7 linked regions of the Homo sapiens genome follow. The protein of the gene in region 5 interacts with the protein of the main gene of each other region in a biochemical or structural test. Each region holds a gene or a part of one and is shown on either strand. Other genes may lie near its edges.

What was found.
Region 1: of the proteins of CUL4A (region 5) and CENPA, one has a biochemical effect on the other in vitro, tested with the Homo sapiens proteins (one study listed by BioGRID).
Region 2: of the proteins of CUL4A (region 5) and ST7, one has a biochemical effect on the other in vitro, tested with the Homo sapiens proteins (one study listed by BioGRID).
Region 3: the proteins of CUL4A (region 5) and OXSR1 interact in a test that uses a peptide from one of them, tested with the Homo sapiens proteins (one study listed by BioGRID).
Region 4: the proteins of CUL4A (region 5) and SALL2 form a complex in vitro, tested with the Homo sapiens proteins (one study listed by BioGRID).
Region 6: the proteins of CUL4A (region 5) and DCUN1D5 form a complex in vitro, tested with the Homo sapiens proteins (one study listed by BioGRID).
Region 7: the proteins of CUL4A (region 5) and DCAF6 form a complex in vitro, tested with the Homo sapiens proteins (one study listed by BioGRID).

Annotation. Positions count from the first base shown.
Region 1 is NC_000002.12:26,789,056-26,792,072, forward strand, and holds part of CENPA (histone H3-like centromeric protein A), read left to right. Parts: intron 1-3,017. UniProt on the Homo sapiens protein: Histone H3-like nucleosomal protein that is specifically found in centromeric nucleosomes. Replaces conventional H3 in the nucleosome core of centromeric chromatin that serves as an assembly site for the inner kinetochore.
Region 2 is NC_000007.14:117,215,501-117,219,000, forward strand, and holds part of ST7 (suppressor of tumorigenicity 7 protein), read left to right. Parts: intron 1-3,500. UniProt on the Homo sapiens protein: May act as a tumor suppressor.
Region 3 is NC_000003.12:38,245,537-38,249,036, forward strand, and holds part of OXSR1 (serine/threonine-protein kinase OSR1), read left to right. Parts: intron 1-538; coding exon 539-685; intron 686-2,131; coding exon 2,132-2,196; intron 2,197-3,500. UniProt on the Homo sapiens protein: Effector serine/threonine-protein kinase component of the WNK-SPAK/OSR1 kinase cascade, which is involved in various processes, such as ion transport, response to hypertonic stress and blood pressure.
Region 4 is NC_000014.9:21,520,580-21,523,346, reverse strand, and holds the end of SALL2 (sal-like protein 2), read left to right. Parts: coding exon 1-643; 3' UTR 644-1,102; coding exon of another isoform or gene 1,103-1,339; 3' UTR 1,340-2,267; downstream 2,268-2,767. UniProt on the Homo sapiens protein: Probable transcription factor that plays a role in eye development before, during, and after optic fissure closure.
Region 5 is NC_000013.11:113,258,113-113,261,612, reverse strand, and holds part of CUL4A (cullin-4A), read right to left. Parts: intron 1,007-3,500; coding exon 854-1,006; intron 1-853. UniProt on the Homo sapiens protein: Core component of multiple cullin-RING-based E3 ubiquitin-protein ligase complexes which mediate the ubiquitination of target proteins. As a scaffold protein may contribute to catalysis through positioning of the substrate and the ubiquitin-conjugating enzyme.
Region 6 is NC_000011.10:103,050,186-103,054,160, reverse strand, and holds the end of DCUN1D5 (DCN1-like protein 5), read left to right. Parts: 3' UTR 1-3,475; downstream 3,476-3,975. UniProt on the Homo sapiens protein: Contributes to the neddylation of all cullins by transferring NEDD8 from N-terminally acetylated NEDD8-conjugating E2s enzyme to different cullin C-terminal domain-RBX complexes which is necessary for the activation of cullin-RING E3 ubiquitin ligases (CRLs).
Region 7 is NC_000001.11:168,002,683-168,006,182, forward strand, and holds part of DCAF6 (DDB1- and CUL4-associated factor 6), read left to right. Parts: intron 1-1,187; coding exon 1,188-1,307; intron 1,308-1,850; coding exon 1,851-2,111; intron 2,112-3,500. UniProt on the Homo sapiens protein: Ligand-dependent coactivator of nuclear receptors. Enhance transcriptional activity of the nuclear receptors NR3C1 and AR. May function as a substrate receptor for CUL4-DDB1 E3 ubiquitin-protein ligase complex.

The sequences.
Region 1 (3,017 bases), on a different chromosome or scaffold from region 5:
ACTTCCCTTCATAGCTGTCCTTTTAAAATAGCCAGACTTGTTAGGTCCACATACATTGCATCTGATTCCTCCCTTCCTAGTGACCCTACAACCCACTCCAATCTGACTCCCCACAACCACTACCCCCACTTCTAATCTGCTTGAACTACTCCTGTCAGGGTCACTAGCACCTTTTGTAGTGCCAAATCCAGTAGGTGGGTCTGTGTTCTTACTGTGTCTCAGAAGCATTTGACGCAGTGGGCCTCTTTCTCCTTGAAGCGTTCTGTTCCCTTGGCTTCCATGCCACTGTGCACTCTGGCAGTTCTGCTTGGTGTTCTCTACTGCCTGTGCTGCCTCCCTCGGCTCCTTGATGTTGGACTTCCTTGACATCCTTTTCCTTTCTACCCCCTCCCTAGGTGGTCTCATCTCCTCCGTGGCTCTAAATCCCACTCATACATTGACAGCTCTCAAATATCTGTATACCTGGATCTCTCCTCTGACCCCAGATACCTATATCTAACTGCCTTTCTACCTGAAGGCTCTTGGTTATGTTAAACTTAACACACCCAAAACTGAACTTCTGGTTACTCCCCTCCAGCCCCTTCATCCTCAGCTTCCCCATTTCAGTAAATGGCACAACTACCCACCCAGTTGTTCAAACCACAAGCCTGGGAGACCCCCGTCTCCAATACAAATGCAGGTCCAGATAATTCTACTTCCAAACTGCATCCTTAATCACTCCATTTTCACCATCTCTGCTCCCACTAGCCTAGTCCAAGCTACCAGCAGCTCTCGAGCAACTGTGAGAGCCTCCTAATCAGCTGCCACTCCACTTCCACTCTGTCCCTTTCTACTTCTTTCCTTACACAGCAGCTGGAATGACCTTCCACATCTCTATCCTGCATAAAACTCTTCCCTGGCTTCTTATTACAGTAGGATTAAATTCCATCTCCTCATGTTGGCATTTCAAGACCCAGCTACTAAATTTTTGATCCCAGTTCTTTTCCATGATCTCTCTAATTGGTTACTTTTCATAACCACTTGTTCTTGGGTCATGGATTTCATATCTCTGTTACCTCTCTGAGTTCATTAACCATTTTTCTCTCAAAGTTTCTATTTCTTTTCTCTATTAACTCAATTTCCTCTGGTATTGGCTATTTTGTTTGTTGAGTTTGGTTCCTTTCTTTCATGGTATTGGCCTTCTTAAATTGTTGGGTGATCTTTAGTTGTGTTCATCTTCAAATTTTCTGTGAATGCTATGTCTTGTTTATTTTTTTATTTTATTTTATTTATTTATATATTTTTGTTTGAGACACAGTCTCATTCTTGTTGCCCAGGCTAGAGTACAGTGGTGCGAGCTTGGCTCACTGCAACCTCCATCTCCTGGGTTCAAGCAATTCTCCTGCCTCAGCCTCCCAAGTAGCTGGGATTACAGGTGCCTGCCACCATGCCCGGCTAATTTTTGTATTTTTAGTAGAGATGGGTTTCTCCATGTTCATCAGGCTGGTCTCGAACTCCTGACCTCAGGTGATTGACCCACCTTGGCCTCCCAAAGTGCTGGGATTACAGGCGTGAGCCACCGCACCCAGCCCTATGTCTGTTTATTAAAGACTGCCTCCAGTGACTGGATTGCCAACTGGTGGTGGGGAGGGAGGGAGGTGTCAGTAGTTTTTCTCCTGGGCATGGGTCTTCCCAGTTTTAAATGTTATCAGTCTTCTGGACACTGCCCTGTTTCATTGGCCTGTGTTCTCTAGCCTCACCCAGGGATGGTCTCCTCTGCTGGCTGCCTGGCACAGGCCATCTCTGGATTGTCTCACCTACCCTACTTGCTCTTGCAGCTCTTCTAACACTTCGTGATTAGTTTATTGTATTAAATGCCTTCTATCGAACTTGGTGTAGAGTCTCTTTGCTTGGCTGGATCCTGAATAACATTTCTGAAACAATTTTATCCGTCAACATGTTATTTTTGTATTTTGTTTGTTCAACTTATCAGATGTTCACTCATCTTGATCCTTGGTTGTAATTATGGAGCAACTGTGCTGTTTTTTCTTTAACTTTATTTTCACTAACTTATTTTCTAATATTTCTTTTGTTCTATCTTGTTTTGGTTTACTTTAATAACTCTGTAATACTTAATTTGACTGCTTGGCTCAGATACCTTTTAGTGTTCTTGTTTTCTAATAGGAACACTTTAAGGCTATGCATTTTCCTCTAGTACTATTTTGGCTGTATCTCATAAGTTTTGGGATATGGGCTTTTTATTGTTATTCATTTCCAAATAGTCTAATTTCAATTAAGTTTCCTCTTCAACACAGGTTAGTTAGAAGAAACTGGTTTTTGATTCATGAGTTTTTAATTTCCAATTAGAGAATTTGGCTTTTTTGATTCCTACTTTTGGGAATGTTTTTAAAATTATTTTCTTTTTTGTTCTTGTTGGAACCAGGATTTGAGCCAAAGGCTCTGTCTCCACAGCCCAGGTGCCTGACACTGACACTGAGTTAGGCCACACCTTACACAGGTCTCAGCTTGGCCACTAATGAGGGCTGGCCAACCATCTTCACCTCGCTGGGCCTCAGGATGATCAAGACAAGGGAATTGTACTAGTCTCTCAGATTCTTTCCAGCTGTAAAAAACAAACCAACAAAAAATCTAAAACCAAAATAACTGAGCTTCCAATCTAGGTGGGAAAGATCTAAGACTTGTACAAAGTCCTGCAAAGCCCAGAGGAGGGCGGTCACCCATCTGTTTGGAAGGATCAGGATTCGGGAAAGACTTCATGGAAGAGTTAGCATTTAAAATCAACTGCAGAGGATCATTCACTCATTCATTTAACAAATGTTTATTTAGCACCTATCTGCTATTTTCTAATTGCTGAAGATAGCAGCAAAATTACTATATATCAGGTTGGTGCAAAAGTATTGTGGTTTTTGCCATAACTGCAATGACTTTTGCAGCAACCTAATAAAACAGACAAAAATCCCTGCTCTGTGGAGGGTAGGCACATAGATATAGTCTAGCAATTTGACAGCTTACCTGAC
Region 2 (3,500 bases), on a different chromosome or scaffold from region 5:
GATGCCTTGACCTCTGCTGTTACACTTAGTTCCTTTACCAGCCTTTTGAGGCCTGTGGTATTCTCATTTTACAGATGAAGAGACAGGGACACAGATTAACGACCCACGCAAAGTCATACGCTAGTGAGCCTAGGCAGGTCCTGCTCATCCTTTAGATGCCACTTTGGCCGCTTCTCCATTATGTACACACAGCACCATGACTCCCTTGGAGGTATTCATCACCGTGGGAACCTTTGCTCTTACTTTCATGATTGGATCCTGCTTCTGGCACTTGGTGGTGAGCTCCATGAGGGCAGGGGCAGTGTGTGCTGGGCTCACCTTTGTGTGCTTGTCACATAAGAAGCCACTCACCTTTTGTCAAGCAACTGATTATAAGAAGTAGAGCTGGGATTCAAACTCGGTTCCCTCTGTTACAAATAATCTGTATAAAATTATCTAAGATACTCTAAGATTGATTACATTCTATCCTTGCCTATCTAGTAGGTAGAGTAAGAAGAGGTCATTAGAAGTCATTGGGAAAATCAGGAATTAACTTGTTCATGTATCCATCCTTTTGTCATTTCTTTGGTTCTGTTTATTTTTCCCCCCAGTATCAATTGAGAATCTCTGACGGGAACAGCACTGATAGACTTGGAACCTAGAAAATGTGTCTGGTCAGGGATAGAAGAAGACAGCATTGTGCCACAGACTTGATTGTGAAGGCATGATCTGTTCTTTCACTAATTCTCAGTTTCATTTTGACCCTTCAGCAAATTCACAACCAAAATCAAGGTAGGGGAAGGGATGGCACACAGAGGAAAGTGCAGAAATATCATTTATATACCATGTATTCACTCTGAGTGGCCTAACTTTTTTGTTTTGTTTTTAACCCAATACATGTGTATTTTTAATTCCTCTGAAATTTGTGTTTTCTTAAGGATTTTTAGGTCTGTATTCATTCATAAAATAGATCTGTTCAAATGACCTTTTTCTATTCTTATTAGCACCACCAAATCAGTGTGTTTTTAATACTTAGATTCGCAAAATTTCTGGACATTTGGCAAAAGGCACAAGGCTGTCATGGAGCAGTTGCATGTCTTAGCAGTGAAAGGGACCAGGAGGTGGGAGGTGACGCTGGCAAGGCTTGTGCAGTGCCTCTACCGGCCTCTCTCTGGACCTCCCCTGCTTATCTCACACTTGACTGGGCCCTGCACTGCAGGGTGGGTAAAGGATAGAATTGCAAGCAGAAATTGTATTTGCTTTTGTTTAGTGAAGCCAAAAGCCTTAATATTATTTTTTGAGCTCAATGCAAATGGCAACTGACATGAGAGAGATTTTAAGAGCACCATAAGCATCTTTATAATCATGGGGGTGGAGGGCAATCCGGGAAGAGGGTGTGGGTGGGTGGGTGGCTGTGTGTACACATGCACTCTTTTTAAAGTTGTATTGTGTCTCTAACCTCTCCAAAAAAGACCAGAACCAATTAGAAAAAGGAAAAGGCCAACTTGACGCACAAAATTCTATATGCATGCCAAATATTGGAGTGAAAAACATGTAGCATTTGACTGAAAAGACACCAACCAACCATTAGATTTCTATGGTTGAACACTCTCAAGATCTTGCACTCCTGTATTTCATTTAAAAAATTACTCCCTGAAGTGCAAACTGACTTCAATTTTGAATAAAATTTAGCATTCAAATTTATAGCCACTTTGAAAACTGAGGGTTTATTTATATCATATGAACTTGAACAGATACTTAATTACAGCAACCCAGCAGCCCTTTGCACATGGAGAATCTGGATTTGGGAAAAAAAAAAACAAAAAAAAAAACTTCCCACGTAGGTTTTTCCACATTTTTCAGATGCTTTTGTAGCAGCCATCATTTATGGGAAATGGCATTAAAATCCTGCCGTAATGTAGTTTAAGTTTAAATTCAGTGCTTCCCAGAAGAGATTTTAGTGTATCCTATAAAGGCACTAAAAGGCTTATTTTTGTTTTTGTTTGTTTTTGTGGGGGGTGTTTTGTTCTCTTGAAAGTCTGGTTCTAATGAGAGAGATGTTGGTTCCTTGGAATGATCTTTGTGTGTTAACAACCTGTGCAAAGAACTCCTCTCTTGCTTGTTCTAGCGGGCAAAAGTCATCTTTGTTTGCGTGCAAGAAAAGGTCTGATTGAACTAGGGTGAGCCTTTCATTTTAAGCAGAGTTAAAGTCTGGGGTGTTTTTAATGTTTTAATCTCTGTTTAAGAGGTTTCTGTTATGAGAGGAAAATTGATAACATTTTTACCTCAGCAAACTGCCAGCAAACTGGCTCTGCTCTAATCCCACATTTATAGTGATTTATATTCTCCGTGGCAATGTGCTGTAACCTCAGAGTGATACCACTGCGGTGTAGATTGACTGCATTCCAAATGCTGGAATCACATACATAATGTTTTTACTTTTAAATAATATTCAGACACCAGAATAAATACCATATGTGCACTGATGCTGGTTACAATGGAACCTTGTCATTTCTTGTGAGGGAGAACATTCTTTGTTTCTGATTCCTGTTTGAAATAAGTATGCAAAAGATAAATATGTACATTGACAGCATTTTGAGAAGGCTCTGGTAGTTACACAGCTGAGGATGTAGCTATGATTCCTTGAAATGTATCATTTAAAACTAAAAATATTGCTGCATGTTGCCCCCATCCCTCACTACCATACATGAAGGCAAGGATTGTTATCTGACATTCCCAGAGTAGGGTAGAGCTTTTATATTTTATATCTACAGCAGGCTGTAGTAAGAGGACATCTGTTGAAGAAAAATTACCTCCGTGAGTACTGTTCATAGGAACAGTGAGACTAACATGCTGATGACATTGTAACAGGGAGAGTAACACACTTGATCATGGGAAAGGATGGATTGATTGGAAAGCCGTAATTCAGTGTGAGCCCTAATGTCATCTGATGCTACAAAAGCAGAATTTAGGTGGCCTAACATCATCAAAATACAGATAATTAATCTCTCCAGATCAATTTTCCCACATGATAAAAGTTAAGATTTAAACTTTTAATAAAGTTTAGAAACACCTCCCGAGTTATACATTTTTAGATTTTTGTTTTTATTCATCTTGATTGGAATTCAAATCCACTTAAACAGTATTTTTTAAATCAATTTGGTAGAATACCTTTCATATTTGTACATCTATACAAACTCCAACAAGTCGATCCACATTTGCTTCTTGGGGAAGCATTTTAATCCACGTTTGCATGATTACTATTTGTTTAGCTATATTGAATTAGTGCCCATAACATTTTAATAATATTTAGTAGATGATGAAACCCTGGGCATTGATACTGATGGCTTCCCAACCCCTCTGCACCTCTGTCCCCACCCAGTTTTGTGAGGTTTGCTCAGAATATATAGTGTGAGATGAATGTGTGAGTAATCCATCACAATTTATCTCTGACATTTCATCTGGCACATAGCTTGGTGGGGTAAGCCTTGCCTCCTTTGTAGAAGTGTTCCCTGTTATAA
Region 3 (3,500 bases), on a different chromosome or scaffold from region 5:
CTGTATTTTGGAGGTGCTGTTTTGCTGGGCAAAGGAATGGAATAGATTTTGTTAAAGATAAATATAATGCAAACTGAAGACAGACACAAAAGACTATATATTATATGATTCCATTTATATGAAATATCCAGAAAAGCAAATTTATAGAAATTAGGATCAGTTGTTGCCTATGGCTGGGTGTGGAAGCAGGAACTAACTATAGGCATGAGAGGACTTTTTGGGGGTGATGGAAGTGTTCTAAAACGATTGTGGTGATGGTTGCACAATTCTATATATGGTACAAAAATCGCCAAATTGTACAGTTACAGTGGGTAAATGTAGAGAAATATAAATTATACCTCACAGAGTTGTTAAAAGTTTAAAAGCCTAGAAATATTTGACTTCCGTTTGGAATAGATATATTCGGAGTAGACACAAAACCTGTACACTACCCAAAAACTACTTTGAAAATATCACCCTGAAAGGCTGAACTTGCTGTCAGCAGACCTGCCTCCCTTTCCACACAACTTAAGCAACACTGTGTGTGTTTTTGTTACAGCTCTTTCCAACAACTGATCCTGTGGGTACTTTGCTCCAAGTTCCAGAACAGATCTCTGCTCATCTACCTCAGCCAGCTGGGCAGATTGCTACACAGCCAACTCAAGTCTCTCTCCCACCCACCGCAGAGCCAGCAAAAACAGCTCAGGTAAAGCCGGGGATATGGTTTCATGGTCACTCCTTTGGATAGATGAAAAGAGCAGATATTAACGTGGAATATAACCTAATGTAATCAGGTTAATGTCTTGGTAGATTTTGAAACAAGTTAGAAATTCTGTCTTCACATTTTTAAGCATGTACAGGTAAGAGAATTTTACAAGGATCACATGCAGGTTTTTAAGCAACAGAATAAGTTAATGATGGAAATATTTCAAACATCAAAAATTTTGGGCTAATTTCTTGTCAGCTTTGTATTAGATAATTACATTTAACTTCAGAATGCAGCTCATGAAGTTCAACAGAGACTAGGAGAATCGATGGCTGTACTGTTTTTGTTGTTGTTGTTCACTCAGGCTTATACTTTTTATTAATACTCTTTGTTTTCTGTGGTTTTTCTCTATTACTCTTTTTAAGTTATTTGTCAATTTTGTGAGGGTTGGTTTGTTAAGTCCGGGTATTATAATCTGTAAATCATTTATCCAGGTGCACACAAACTTTATTAAATCATACTTCATTGAGAGCAGCCAAGTGAATGAAGGCCCCGTAGTGGGCTGCTACATGCTGTGTAACTCCTTCTCTCCCTTCAATAAACCTCAGACACTGCATACAACATGTGGCCCTATGGTACATGGTTAAAGTAAGACTTTCAACGTCCATTTATTAAATATTAGAAGTTCCATTTTCTTGTCTAACGTTTTAGATGAAAAGAAATATAAATTAAAGGTCTGATTTTTTTTTTTTTCTTTTGCACCCCAGTAGATCATCTCGTGTTCTGCCTTTGGAGATCACTGCTTTGAGCATTTCCAATTAGTCATGGCACTTACTTCATTTAACTTTGCATCCCTCAAGCTTTCCATTTCTGCTTGGCATATGGGAAAAGATACAGTTGTCTTAGGAAAATTGATGGAAAAATTAGATTCATTTTATAAACAACTTAAATCGAATGCATGTCCTCCCATAAGCAAGCGCTGTACAATTTTCAGAGAGGATTAGTTTAGCCATAAAAAGACTGGAACCTATGTATGGGTTGGATGGATTTCTGAAGGGCAGCTGGTTCAGGGTCTACCTTTTGTACTGCCATATGGTGCACTGGCAGATTTTTTAAAAATGAGAAACCTAGCTTTGTGTTTTTCAGTCTTGTAGAGGGGAACAGGGGTCTCAGAAATATAAAATGTAAATGTGGCTATATGTGAAATTTCATCTGGGCTTGAGAGTTTTCTTTCTCATTGTGTTGGACTTAAACTGACATTCAGCTTTTGTTGCTGCCTTGGAGTGCATGTCCTCCTCCAGCAGGGAATGTCCTGGGGATTAGTATGACCTCAGCTGGAGATGAAGAAAATTGCTGCCAAGTAAATGATTCCTCTGCCAGTGACCATTAGTCACCTCCCCACTTAATGTTTCAGGCAATGACTGTATACCTTTCAATGCTTTTTAGGCTTTGTCTTCAGGATCAGGTTCACAAGAAACCAAGATCCCAATCAGTCTAGTACTAAGATTAAGGTAAGTAGACATTTTTTGTTTTGTTTTCTTTTGTTTTCTGAATATTCTGCATGTGCTGTAATAGTCTGTGCCTGAGAGTAACTGGATAGGATTGTATGTCCTCCAGCATCAAGCTCTGTTTGCTTGGTGGTGTATTATTTTTCCCCAGAAATAATAGCAACAGTGTGAGGACCTGCATGTTAGCAGGTGTTGTGACTAACTGATGCACATGTTCTCTCAGTTGTTTCTGTGCTAATTGGTGATGAGTTTGTGTATTTACAGTGTAGCTAGTTTGGGTTAGGAGGTGTAGCCTGTAATTGAGGAACAGTTTTTAGGGGAGCAGCACTAACTGGCTTATCTGAAGATCAGTCTTATAATTGTGACGAGGTAAACTCTGAGATCAACTAACCCAAGAGGGGAGCACTTTTTGATTGTGGTAGATCAAATAAAGGCCTTGTTTTTAGAAGGTTAAAAGGAAACTTCTAAATGTTTTTGTAGTCTGTTTCTGTTTTGCAGCAAGTACCCTAAATTGGTGGTTCTTGGTGGGAACATATAGAGAGGTCCTGACAGATTGCTCAGCAGGAAGTGCCATAGGTAGCAGTCTGTTCATTTTAACTCCCTGCCCCGCCCCCCCCGCCCCTAGCACTAGTAGCTGGATTCAAATTCCAGAGCTTTCTTGTCAGAATCACTATGGCTGTTGTATTGCTCTAGTTAGGTCTCTTTCTACTCATAAATGCATTTGAAAAAAAATTAGTATTAAAGTATCACTTGAGGCAACTCAGGCCTTTTAAAACTATTACTAACATTTTAAAAAAGAGTTCCACTGAATTACCATTAACTCATTCCCCTTGCACATATAAATTCCTAGTCATCTTTCTGTAAGGTCCTAATTGGAGATAGAGGCAGCAAGAGCTATTTAAGAGAATGTGGTAAGGAGAATCTCATTGCTCCTTGCCACTAGGAGCAATGCATTTATGCCATAAATGTGAAAAACATATTTGGTTACCTTTCCTTTACAGAAGCCTACTTAGTATACCTGGTCTCATCTCAAAAATTCTGAGTTACTAGGATGTCTTGACAACTTCATGCTGTTTTAAATCTACATAAAGAATAACACTTTAAGAAAATTATTGTGAAATGTATTAAGCACAGACTATGTATAGCACTCTTCGGTACTGTGGAAAGGTGGATACTGAGAAAAGAGAAAATTAAATGACTCCCTTAATAATCAAGTCTAGGTTGGAAGTTGATTTGAACTATGTACTTACACAGCTAAAAGCAAATTTCAGGTAGTATATACATGCAGAAGTATAAGTTTGTATGTA
Region 4 (2,767 bases), on a different chromosome or scaffold from region 5:
GGCAATATCAGTGAGAGGTGATTCAGAAGAGGCATCTGGGGCAGAGGAGGAGGTGGGGACAGTGGCGGCAGCAGCCACAGCTGGGAAGGAGATGGACAGTAATGAGAAAACTACTCAACAGTCTTCTTTGCCACCACCACCACCACCTGACAGCCTGGATCAGCCTCAGCCAATGGAGCAGGGAAGCAGTGGTGTTTTAGGAGGCAAGGAAGAGGGGGGCAAACCGGAGAGAAGCTCAAGTCCGGCATCAGCACTCACCCCAGAAGGGGAAGCCACCAGCGTGACCTTGGTAGAGGAGCTGAGCCTGCAGGAGGCAATGAGAAAGGAGCCAGGAGAGAGCAGCAGCAGAAAGGCCTGCGAAGTGTGTGGCCAGGCCTTTCCCTCCCAGGCAGCTCTGGAGGAGCATCAGAAGACCCACCCCAAGGAGGGGCCGCTCTTCACTTGTGTTTTCTGCAGGCAGGGCTTTCTTGAGCGGGCTACCCTCAAGAAGCATATGCTCCTGGCACACCACCAGGTACAGCCCTTTGCCCCCCATGGCCCTCAGAATATTGCTGCTCTTTCTCTAGTCCCTGGCTGTTCGCCTTCCATCACCTCCACAGGGCTCTCCCCCTTTCCCCGAAAAGATGACCCCACGATCCCATGAGCCTGTTTTTCTGTACCTGCTGCTCTTTGTCCCACAGAGCAGAAACAGCTTCACAAAAGGACCTCCCAGAGTTATGAGCCCTGATTTTGTCTTTTTCTCTAAGTTCTTAACATGTTATGTCCCTAGTGGCTTTTCTGTAGTCCCTGAGCTTGGAAATTACTGTGCTTACAAGGGGATGGCCCCCTAAGGAATTTTTCTTCCCTCCTCATTCTTTGTACCTGAGGAACATAGATTCTCTGCAGCTTTCTCAAGGGGAACCCTCTCCAGCTTCCCTGGTGTGACCCTTCTTCCCCCTCCTCTCTCCTCTCCCTTTCCCTTTGGTAGGTGCACCTGAGCACCTACATTTGGCATTGCAGCCTAGCCAAAAAGGGCTGGCAGCTGTCTCTGGAGGGCCCAGTGCCACTCCTCTGGGGTGACCTTTCTGCTCAGCTGGTGGGTATGGGTCCCCTATCTTTCTAGAACCAGTATGTGGCATTCCTGTCAAATGGCCTGCCCATGAAGCCCTGGAATTCCAGCTCCACCTCCACTACCACTCCAAGCCTGGCCCCACCAGTGCTGTTTGGCCTAGGAACTGTGGCTGGGAAGGTGCCTCCAACAATGGGATCCAGGGAAGCCAAGGAGAAGACAGCCCCCCTCCTATTTCAGCCTCCTGCACCCAAGGCAGTGCCTGAGAAGCCCATCATAGACAAGAAGTAGCAAACTGTACATTCCTTCTTCCTCCCCCTGCTCCAGAAGGTGCCGGTACTGAAGATGCTCCAGTAATTGGTGACCCAACCCTAGGAAGTAGGGAGAAATGAAGGAAGGGCATAGGAAAATTTTCCCAGTAAATCCCCTGATGGTCACATTAAGGTAAAGGTTTTGGCTGGTCAGTGTGCCAAGACCTCTCCAGCTTCTCATTCATGATGACCTCTCAAAGTTGGGAAACAAGCTGATTTCTTGCCAAGAGGTCTCCCAGGAGATATTTGGGAAATGTGAAGTTCGTATCTTTAAGGAGCATTTTTGGTCAGCATGGTTGATGAACTAATGATGAGAGAGTTAAGGAATGTTGCTAGAACATAGGGCTTGCTGGTACCTATGTGACTAAGAAAGGGACATGATGTAAGGGAAAAGGCCTCAAATTCTTGTGAATGTCTGGACATTCTCGTTAATATTCTTTTGGGCTAATAGTGACATAGTGTGCAGAGGTGTACCAGGGATCATGGGGGATTTCCTAGCACTAGTATGCTTCTAGTTTTAGATAACTCCCTCCTTTATTCCCTGGCCCCTTGTATTTTCCTTATCTTCCTCTTTCAAGACCCCTACCCATTTTGCCTATCCGTAGGCTGGGGCTTGTGTCTTTGTCATTGTCTGGTTCTTAAGAGTCCCAGACTTTGGGAGACCAGCTCCAGGTGGCGTCCTCCCTGCCTCTCCGTCTTGTAATGAGTTGTAGTATTTACTCTTAACATAGGATCATTTGGAACAGGAGTTCTGAGGAGGAGAGAGTGAGGGTTTTGCTATTGACTGACTTGAACGATGGCTTCTCCTCAAGCTGTAGGCTCCAGAGCTTCCTAACCTAGTAAAATGTCAAGAACAGACGGGAGATATTAGTGTCTTTCCCTCTATCATTAAAGGTGTTTTAACCAAATATTTATGTGTTTCTCCTTATTTCATGATTACATAGCCAGCTGGGGTGTGATATGGGCATTCCCCAAAATTGAGATTCCCTTCCCACCTACATCTCCTGCCAAAGCTGAACATATGGTGTTGAAATATTTACTTTATTCAGCCTTGTCCTAAGACAACCTTCAGTTAATGTAACTTCTCTGTGGAAATTGTTCCCTGTGGAGTTTGTATTTCCAAAAGGTAGGCATTTGCCCACTGTGTCCAGTCATTGTCTAGATTTTCTCTACCTAGAACCTTCCACCACCAGGCTTTTCTGTGGGTTTTGTTTGGAGGTTGGAAACTGTTTCTTTTCCGTCTTTCTCAAACCACAGATCAGCCTTCTGACATCAGCGAATCTGTAGAACCAAGGTGAATTAAACTTTATGATCCTTGAGATCTGATGTCATAATCAGAAAGAAAAAAATGTAATTCAACCCTAATAATTTCTACCAACAAGACAAAGGAGGATTCTTATCATTAGGA
Region 5 (3,500 bases):
AACAGGAGACTTGCTCCAGCTGGTGGGAGGAAGGGGCAGTGAACCTGATGGTGCTTTTGGAGCTTCCCAGGGCCCTGAGGACGGCACCTCACCTCTGCAGGGAAGGGGGCAAATGTGGGCTGATGGACAGTGGCACTTCCACCAGACTCTTAAGTGTTCGACTATTTAGTGCATCTCAACTTTATTCCCTTGATGGAATGGGAGGCTCAAACTGCACAACATGGAATCTGGGGACTTTCCCTCCAAAGCACGTGTGGCCGGTCCTGTCCCTGAGAGGCCAGGCGTCATCAGAGTTCAGTATTTCCTGGGTTGATAAATACATGTAAAAAACGTTTCATAATACTTTCCCGGCTTATCCTGCATCCCACACGTGGCAGGACAGTAAATCTCAGTTCTGAAAACAACGCGGGTTGACAGGCCTGGGCTGACTTTCATAAGCAACAGCAACAGTAGACTATTACCGTGGTGGAAAACGCGGTGTAGGCTGTAAACGCTGAGTAAGTTAGTTATTGTTATCATTTCCTTAAAATCTTGTGATGTAACCTTGACCGCTACTACTATGAGAAAAGTGTTCAGCTTTCCATGTCCCATCTACCTCTTCCCTTCCTGAAAATATGAACAAGCGCGCACCATCCCTGGGAAGGAGAGTTTTAGGGCTCTATCATTTCTGCAGTGGCAATGAGCAACACCTGGAATAAAGAGCTTCACATTTGCCAGTTTTTCTACATTCAGTGTATACACAAAGCACCATGAATAATGCAGGTCAAATGATATGACTGAACATAGAATTAAACATGCTTTGTCAATTGTTTAGCAAATACTACAAATTTAATTATGCTAATGTTACATTTACCTTTACTGGAAATTTCAGCTGATTATATAATTCAGAAACTAGAAGATTATGACCAAGAGTCTTTCTCATCTTCATTATTCTGACGATAGCAGCATCAATCTGATATTGTCTATCCTGAAACACTCTCTCAGTGGTGCTAACCTGTTCCTCAACCTGTATAAAAAAGAAAAAAAAAGTTAAGTGTAAAACTGTATTTTCTTTTTATTTTTTGCGATGGAGTCTCACTCAGTTGCCTGGGCTAGAGTGCAATGGTGTGATCTCGGCTCACTGCAACCTCCGCCTCCCAGGATCAAGCGATTCTCTTGCCTCAGCCTCCCGAGTAGCTGGGATCACAGGCACCTGCTGTCATGCCCGGCTACTTTTTGTATTTTTGTACAGGCAGGGTTTCACTATGTTGGCCAGGCTGGTTTTGAACTCCTGACCTCAGATGATCCGCCCACCTTGGCCTCCCAAAGTGCTGGGATTACAGGTGTGAGCTACCACACCTGGCCTATATTTCAATATTAATGACCTGATGTTACCGAATTTGATGGGAAATGGTTTTTTTTTTTTTTTTGAGACGGAGTCTCACTCTGTCACCCAGGCTGGAGTGCAGTGGCGCGATCTCGGCTCACTACAAGCTCCGCCCCCCGGGTTCACGCCATTCTCCTGTCTCAGCCTCTCAAGTAGCTGGGACTACGGTGCCCCCCCACCATGCCCGGCTCATTTTTGTATTTTTAGTAGAGACAGGGTTTCACCATGTTAGCCAGGCTGGTCTCGATCTCCTGACCTCGTGATCCACCTGGCTCGGCCTCCCAAAGTGCTGGGATTACAGGCGTGAGCCACCGTGCCTGGCCGGAAATGTTCTTTTGATGCAAAGAAAGGTCAGACATTGGATGAATCCTACTTTATTATGCATGTTTACTTGTTGTAGTAAAAGGTACCTTCCCAGAATAGCAAAACTCCAAAACCAAAACTTAAAAAATATTTTTAAAAGTTATTTTCCTTATAAGAAAGCTGCAACAACTCTATGTGTGATGTAGATTAAAACTAGCAGCACAGTAAACAAAACATAATGACCATCAGGATATATTCCAGAAATGTTAAGTGTTGATCAACATTAGGAAATCTGTGAATATAAGTGAGAGCACTGTAGCAGTTGAAAGGTTAGATTACATGACCATCTTGATAGATGCTGAAAAGGCATGATAAAATTGATTTTTTGATTTAAAACAAACATTAGCATACAAGGATGAATAAAAAAGCATCTGAACATGATAAAACATGGTTATCAGAAACAAACAGCAAATACTAGAGACAACTTAACCTTAGTCCAACAGGAACCTGATGGGGATCTGCAGTTGAAATGAGGGCTGGGGGAAGGTCTGTGCATACATATGAGGCAAGTATGCTTCAGGATGGGAGAGACTCCAAGCTTTCATCACATTTTCAACAGGATCCATGACCCCCAAAAAGTTAACATCCTCTGAACTAGAGATAAAATTAGGAAGCTCAGCTGCACTGCTATTCCTTAAAAACATTACTTTAGAGGTTCTAACTATGCAATACAGGAACAGACTAAAGAGGTATATTGAAAAGGTGCAGACAAAACGATCATTATTTGTAGATGAGCTGGAAAATCCAAGAAAATCAACAGAAAAACTTTCAAAGCTAAAGAGTTTTGTAAAGTGGCTGGAAATAAAATAAATATACAAAGACAAATAGCATTAATACATACATTCTGATAAAAACCGTCAGAAATGTAAAGAAAAAAGGTCCCCTTTATAAGATATCAGCATTTCATTAGCCTGTCTTGCTTAAAACTCTAGTGGTTTTCCAAATGCTTCATGGATCTGAGCCATCTTCAGAGGGTCCAGCTGTGGCTCCCTGATCAGGCCTGTCTGGCTCAGCTTCCCCTTTTGGCAACGATGCTGCAGCCAGAGGCCTTCTTTCAGTTCCTGAGCAAAGCTAGTCACTTCTTCAGGAAAGCGTTGGCTGACGACAGTATTTAATTAGACTCTCCTGCACTTCTCTATCCTAACATTTTCCTCCACTCTTACAAGTTAGTCAATGTGTGTGATCCTCTGCTACCTCTCTGCTGGAAAAGACTGAACACTCCTAGAAACAAGGACTTATTCTTTATTGTTAATGGATGAATTCTCAGTGCTTCACAGAGGACCTGGGCCACCACAGATGCTCAATAAGTATTTGTTGAATGAATGAAAATTTATGACTAGCAAGAAATATGCAAGACTTACAGAAGAAAACTAGAAAGCTCTGAGAAAAAGATTTGTATGTATTTACATATATACACATATGTATGAATCACAAGATTTAATATGATAAAGATAAAAGCTCTGTAAATTAATGCAATATGGATTAAAAATGTCAATGTTCTTATTTGGGGGAGCAAAGGCGTGATACAATTATTGTCAAGTTCATTGGAAGAATAAAGTTATAGGAATAGCTACATTAATTAAAAGAACCTGGTGCCGGGCACGGTGGCTCACGGCTGTAATCCCAGCACTTTGGGGGGTCAAGGTAGGAAGACTGCTTGAGCCCAGGAGTTCAAGACCAGCCTGGGTAACATGGCAAGGCCTCATCTCTACAAAAAATACAAAAATTTAGCTGGGCGTGGTGGCATATGCCTGGGGCTGAGGTGGGAGGA
Region 6 (3,975 bases), on a different chromosome or scaffold from region 5:
GACATAGATGTGGAAATTGGGAGGTTCTCTCTATCTGGCTTACGTCAGTTTGAGAAGTTTGACATGAAATGGAACCTTCTGGAATGAGGTTCTTTTTCCTGCTTTTCACCTGGAAAGTTTTCCCATACATGGTCCTCTTGCACCCCTAGTCCTTTTAGGGTACCTATTTCTGTGTGCTAGTTCTTTCATTTCCTTGTCTGTAACATGAGGATAATAATAGTCCTTATCTAATAGCATTATTTTGAGGATGAAATGAAATACAGGCAGTAAATATTAGTTACTCTTTGCTATCTGGAAAAACATCAATTGAACCTCATAGGATGGACTTGTGTTCAATAAGTGTTATATATAGTAGAGTCAAATGGAAAAATTGAACCACTCAGATACATTTTTTTCATTGATACATAATAGATGTATTTATTTGGGGGGTACATGTGATAATATGATATATTCATATAATTAAAATTCATTGATACATGATGTATTTATTTGGGGGTACATGTGATAGTATGATATATTCATATAATTAAAATTCATTGATACATAATGTATTTATTTGGGGGGTACATGTGATAGTATGATATATTCATATAATTAAATGAAGATAATTGGGATATCCATCACCTTAAATATTTATGTTTTCTTTACACTAGGAACATTCGAATTCTCTTTAGCTATTTTGAAATGTACAATAGTTTAGTGTTAATAGATCAGTCATCCTACTGATATATCGAACACCAGGTCTTATTTCTTCTGTCTACATAGACATATTTAGAAATGCAAATCTCTTAGGAAATTAATCTGTAATGTCAATGATGCACACTGATTTGTATTACTTGCTTTCTTTGTAGGCAGTATAGTGAAATGGTTCATTAAATGGATGCTAAATATGACTAAATGATCAATTTACAGTGTAGTTGGCACCAAGTAATAAATGCTCAGTAACATAGCTACTATGGCTGTCTTTAAAAGTGGATTGGTTTGACTTCATAGGAAGGACTCTATTTTTAAAAAAGAGAAATATTAAAAAATAAAAAGCCAAAATTCTATGATGTCTTATTACATTGAGTCTCTTAAATCAGTTTTTTTTTAATTAAGTAGCAGGACCCTATTGCAAAATAAGTTTTACCTAGAAGCACAGTATTTAAAACAGAAAGCTAAAATACTCTGGTTAAGTGGGAAGCTCCCTGTCTTCCTCGCTGCTAGTATTATTTCTGAAAAACCTCAAAGGAACTCCTTGCTCTCTGAATAGCAGGTTTTAAAAACCACTACTTGCACATTTGCACCTTGACATCAAACATGTGAACAAAGTAATAGAGTGAGAAAACTGAATTTCTATTTAGGAATTTCTATTTTATTCTCTCTATAAAAAGCCAAGAAGTGGTTGGTGTTTGGAATAACATGAAAAATATTCCAAGTATCTTTGGAAATACTTACACTAGAACTATAAGGTTTATGATAATTCTATCTTAGATTCATTATCTAGAGCTGGTCTAAAAAAGGATGATATGTAAGAACTACCAAGAGAGACTTGGAGTAGATACAAGAATGAAGGAATGAATCAATATCCAATAAATATCCATAGGCCCAGGCTTTGCTATGCCCTCTTATTACACAGGATAAAACAGTGTAGTTGTTAGTTTCTACCTTTGAAGATTATGATCCTTAAAAAGGAAACAGCTCTGTGAACAGAGACCATGTTATTCATAGGTGTTCCTCACTTGTTTCCACCACATAATAGGTATTTAATGAATGAAAAAATTCACGTCTCTCTTTGATCCTAGACTGCAAGTTACTTAAAAGAAATGGACCGTATTTTACTTATCTCTCATGGCCTGCAAATTGAGTTTGCTTACTGAATTAATGAATGAATGACCAATTGTACACATATGTCTGTAAAACGTTTACATATCCACATTCCCATTAGACTGAGATTCTTGAGGGCAGAAACCATGTCTTCAGCTCTCAGCATGGTGCCTGACTCATGGTAGGTTGTCAAAAGCATTTGCAGAACTGAATAAAACTTACGTTTAAGTAGTACTGGAGCAGTCTCACATAACCGGGCACAGTGTCTTCTAAATAGACACTAAAATTATTTCATAATTAAAGACAGATCTCACTAAGCATTTTCTGAGTTAGTGCCAGTTGAATAATATGACAATAAGCTATAGGAGTTCAGAGGAGAGTGAGTTCTGTGGACTGAAATAGTCAAAGTGGATTTTCAGAGCAGATGAGACGCGATGAAGGCTGGGGCTACTTTGGTGTTTTAAGAACATTAATTAGGCAGCAGGAAAATCTGAGGACAGGGAGACTAGTAAGGAAGGCTGGAAAGAGCCCTGGGTTTGGAGTTCAGAGATCTGTGTTCAGAGTCCTTTGCTTCTTAGTGACTATGTGACCTTGAGAAGATAACTTGAGCTCCCTTTTTCCTCTTCTGTGAGGTAGAGGTAAGATTGATGTGCATATTGATATTGTACTTAAAAGTGTTTGTAAAATGCTAAGTAAAACCTAATGCTATGCTTTGAATGTAGTGGGTTCCAAATATTTGTTTAATGACAAAGAATAAATGATATTGACTAATGAAAATAATGGAGCCACTGGAATGTCACCTCCTGCATCTGCCAGTAAACCTGTTAACACAGGGGTGGCGGGGGGGGGGGGGAAGTAAATATGTGAAGCCACCAAATCTCATGATCAGGAGAAAAACTTTGGAACTCCCATGAGACTCCAAAGTTATGTCACAGGTGAATAAGTCATGAACTTTTCATGCTGATATCATTTCTAAGGTTGCTGCCTTGTCAGAAGAAGCAAACCACAAGATAAACCATGCAGAAAATCTTTTTTTAAAAAAGTTTCCTGAAGGATGGATGGTTCATTTGTTCTGCTTGTCACTTTACTTACTAATGAGTCATTTTTTTCCTTAACCAGTAATTTGTTTTAAATTTGGTCATAAGATGGTATGTTGACTAGTCCAATGTTACAAAATAATTGGAAAAAAGATGACAGACCACCAACTGAATAAGGGAAATCTGGTTCTTGAACTTCCAATGTATGAATTGGTGATGGTAAGCTTAGTCTTTATGATGTAAGATTGGATTTATTGGAACTTCTTTATGTCCAGAAGTTGCAGCACCTTTCTTTGTCTCTGGAATGCCCAAGATCTCTACTGCATCCTGTAGACATGGAGGGTTTCCCCCCTTATTCTGGGTCTGATTATTTTTAAAGAAACACCCTTTCCTTACCCATCATGGAGACACTACTAACCTTGTATATACTTTTATTAGAGTGCTGATAACACCATATTACAGTAGCATACTTACATATCTGTTTTCTTAACTGTGAGCTCCTTGAGAGCAGGGACTGTGTGTTTTTGCTTTTATTTCACCAGTACTCAGAACTATCCACAGTATAGAAAAGCACTCAATAAATGGAATAAATGAAAATGAATAGATAAATAAATGATTTCACTTGTATAAGATGTCCAGTAATCTTTTGTGTATTTTTCTAATTCACTGTATGGCACACATTCTAGTACAACCCTGTTTATAATGTTGACCTACTATTAAAGGAATTAAACAAATGTAAGCCAAGACAAGAAATGCATATTAAAACAACTATGGTATTTTTGCCTTCCAAATTGGCACAGATTTTAAAAATTGATAATGCCCATGTTTGATGACACAAGGAGACAGGAATTGTTATACTTTGCTGGAGGGAATATACATTGGCATAGCCTTTTCTGGAAGTCATTTAGGGAGATACATCCAAAAGCCTTAGTAAGTTTCATATTTTCTCACCCAACAATTCTATGCCTATCATCTTAAAGAATAAATTTTAAAACTTTCAAAAGATTTTTATCATAACATATTTGATAGAAAAAATGAAATAACCTAAATGTTTAAGCATAGAAAATTTGTTGAATAAATTACAGCATATTTATGCAATAGAGTACTATGCCATCTTGAAAAATCCACACTG
Region 7 (3,500 bases), on a different chromosome or scaffold from region 5:
ACATATAGGTATACTTATGCAAATATATCTTAGGATAAATTCTTAGAAGTGGAATGGCGCAGTCACTGGATAAGTACCTTTTAATTTTGGTAGTTGTTATCAGATTAGTCTCCAAAAAAGATGTGCTAATTTACATTCCCACTGAAAGTATAAGAATGCCCATTACCCCATAGTACGTTGGGTATTGTCAGACTTTGCAGTTTTTGCCTTTCTATTAGATATTAAGAGAAATGAAAACTCAGCCCAAGGGTTTTATATTAGCACATAAAATGTTTTCTATCAAGTGCCTTTGATAAGCATAAGAATCAACCCTGGGAGCTTTAAGATAGCACACTTGAAAATAGAATTAATCTATGAATTATAATTCTATATTATTATGTTTTATTAAATTGGTCTGTAACCAAAATCTTACTATAATGACTTCTGAAACATCTCTTGTGATCAAAAGCATATTCCCCAATATATGAGCTACATTATATAAAGGCAATAAAGTGTAAAAGAAACTCTGATTTCACAGAAAATGTAAGAAGAACCGATTTTCATTTTAAATTATAAGACTATAGAATAGAGTTGTCACATTTTGAATTTGACATTACACTTTTAATTTGAAAATACCCTTGGAAAAACTTGTTTACTTGCAGGAGGAAAAGGAGTGAGGGAAGAGACAAAATACTTTCTGGTTCCAGTTAATTTCAAATATCTGAAATTTGCTTACAGTAAATGATGTTGAAAATAAATTGACTTTAAGGAAACTTCATGCAAAAGCATAAGGCTATTTTGTGTCTGTACTTGATTATAATGCTTTAGGGAGAGGGAAAACCTTTCTTTTAATCTATTAAACTTAGAATTCATGAGCCTTTCTTGGCTGGGTACTCTTAGAACTAAAAATTTAGGTTGAGGTAGGAAGTGGGAGGTTTAGTGGTACCTAAGAATAGGCAAAGATGAAGGAGAGGTGAGCCCTGTTCTCAAGAAACCTTACCATACACATGGAAAGTCACTGATATAAACAATTACTATAAAATGTGATGAGAGCTCTAATAGATTTATATACATTCATACAATTTATTTAGGAAATTTGATTTTTAAAAATATGCTTTCATTTTAAAGCCCTTCAAATCTAGGTTTTTGTATTAATGAAAGATTCTGACTTATTACTAAACTCACTGATAAGACCTATATTGTAATAGGAGAGCAGAGTCCCAATGTGTCATTGATGCAGAGAATGTCTGATATGTTATCAAGATGGTTTGAAGAAGCAAGTGAGGTTGCACAAAGCAATAGAGGACGAGGAAGATCTCGACCCAGAGGTAATTTTTAATGTTAATTAAAGTCATCAGAAAGCTGGCAAAAACTACTTATTGAAGCCAGTTTTTATTTCTATCATGTAAATTATACCATGTTTTACATCTGTAATAATCACAAGGTTCTTATTGTGTGGTGTGAAGTAGTAGAGAATAAAAGATATTGGATATAATTTGTCCCTTCTGGTGCCATTGGACCTAGTGCGTATCTTTTGCTTTTCTCAAAGTAAAGTAGAAGAATCTGAGGTTTCCTATTTTAAGCCTTTTTTTAATGCACTCTGAGAATGGAAATATATAAAATTCTGTGTATAAACAAGTTTTATGTAATAGGAAAGATTGATTGCTTTAACAAGAATATGTTGTAGATAAGTTTTTATCCCTCTTGACTGGCCTATTTTGTCAAATGGGCCAAATCACCAGTAGTTATTATCACTGAAATTATATATTTGTGTGTGTAAATATAAATGTGTTTTCTGAGCATATCTGTTTAGAGTTGTTGGTTTTAGAAAATATTTAAAATTTGAATTTGCCTTAACATGTGTTTTGAAGGTGGAACAAGTCAATCAGATATTTCAACTCTTCCTACGGTCCCATCAAGTCCTGATTTGGAAGTGAGTGAAACTGCAATGGAAGTAGATACTCCAGCTGAACAATTTCTTCAGCCTTCTACATCCTCTACAATGTCAGCTCAGGCTCATTCGACATCATCTCCCACAGAAAGCCCTCATTCTACTCCTTTGCTATCTTCTCCAGACAGTGAACAAAGGCAGTCTGTTGAGGCATCTGGACACCACACACATCATCAGTCTGGTGAGGATAAGTATGCTGTGGTTCATCTAATGATTTTTGATAGTGAAAATTTCTTTACTGGCTATTTTGAAAGATACTAAATCACATCAACTTCTTGTTGGAATAAATGATCAAAATGACATGTAATATATGGTTATGTAACTTAAACACAAAAATTAATTATGTCTTACTTGCATGAATTTTAACAAATAGCAGGAATCTTCAATTTATATAAAACAATTGTTTTAAAAGTACAAGTACCAAAAGATAGTGTTTTGACATAGTTTAATGTGCCTGACTTAAATATTATTTTATAGATTATTAGAGACCAAAATATCTTTCTAGATTTATTTGGTTTTATGTCTATATTAAAGTGATTATGAAAATATCAGTATTAGTTTCACTTTGCTTATATTCTTGATTATTTCCCTCAAATAATGCAGTACTTTTAATATACTCTCTATGGTGGATTTGATATGGTCTTTTGTCAACAACATATAATTTACCAAAAAATTTGTTTCTCTAGTATTTACATGAAAAAGAATTATTTTACCAAATGCTTATCTTCTTGATACTTGATGCTAGTGAAAATAACCTCTACGTTCTGTTAAAATGCTATTTTTTTCTCAGTATTATAAGTCTTTATGGTCAACTTTTTTCCCCTAACTATGGAATGTGCTAGTATTTATAATAGTAATTTTCAGCAGATGTATCTACAGTTTACTCGGTACTTTAAACTATATACATGTAATTATAAAAACCAATAAGATATTTATTCATAGTTTTCTTTGGTTCTTCTAAGGAAGAATTTTACTCAATATAGAGCCAGAATTATTAGCAACTAGAAATATAGCTGGCAGGCCTAAGCTGAAACCTATAAAAAAATTTCTAACAGCTTAGCTGCCAAGCTGTCACTTTATTCTTACATCTCTGGAAACTGATGCCAGATTACCAAATATGGGATGTTTTAATTTAAGCACTCTTTTATCAGTATATACCACTTTTAGTAATTCATTTTCAGTTTCTATGGGAATAAAAGCCAGAGTCAGTTACATAACTGTTAACACTGTATACATTTTATCCATAATAATAAGCTAAAGCTGAGCTACAGAATCAAGGTTTTCACACTCAGTTGACATAGCATTTTAATTTATGGAAAAATAAAATATTTTGGAAGATTTGGGAATTAAAAGCAGAAGTAGTTAAAAGTTTGTTTTTCAAAGCAGGTAAAATTGGGAAAAGCAAGAATTTTTAAAGTGATATTCTTGAACATATTGATCAATTATAAGTTTTTAGGAAAACTTAGCAAGAAGACTCTAGCTTACATTCAGCTTCCACTGAATCTCAACTAATTCTAGTTGTTTCTTAAATATATTTATGAGTAAAGTATTTGGAACTTTATTTTTTAAA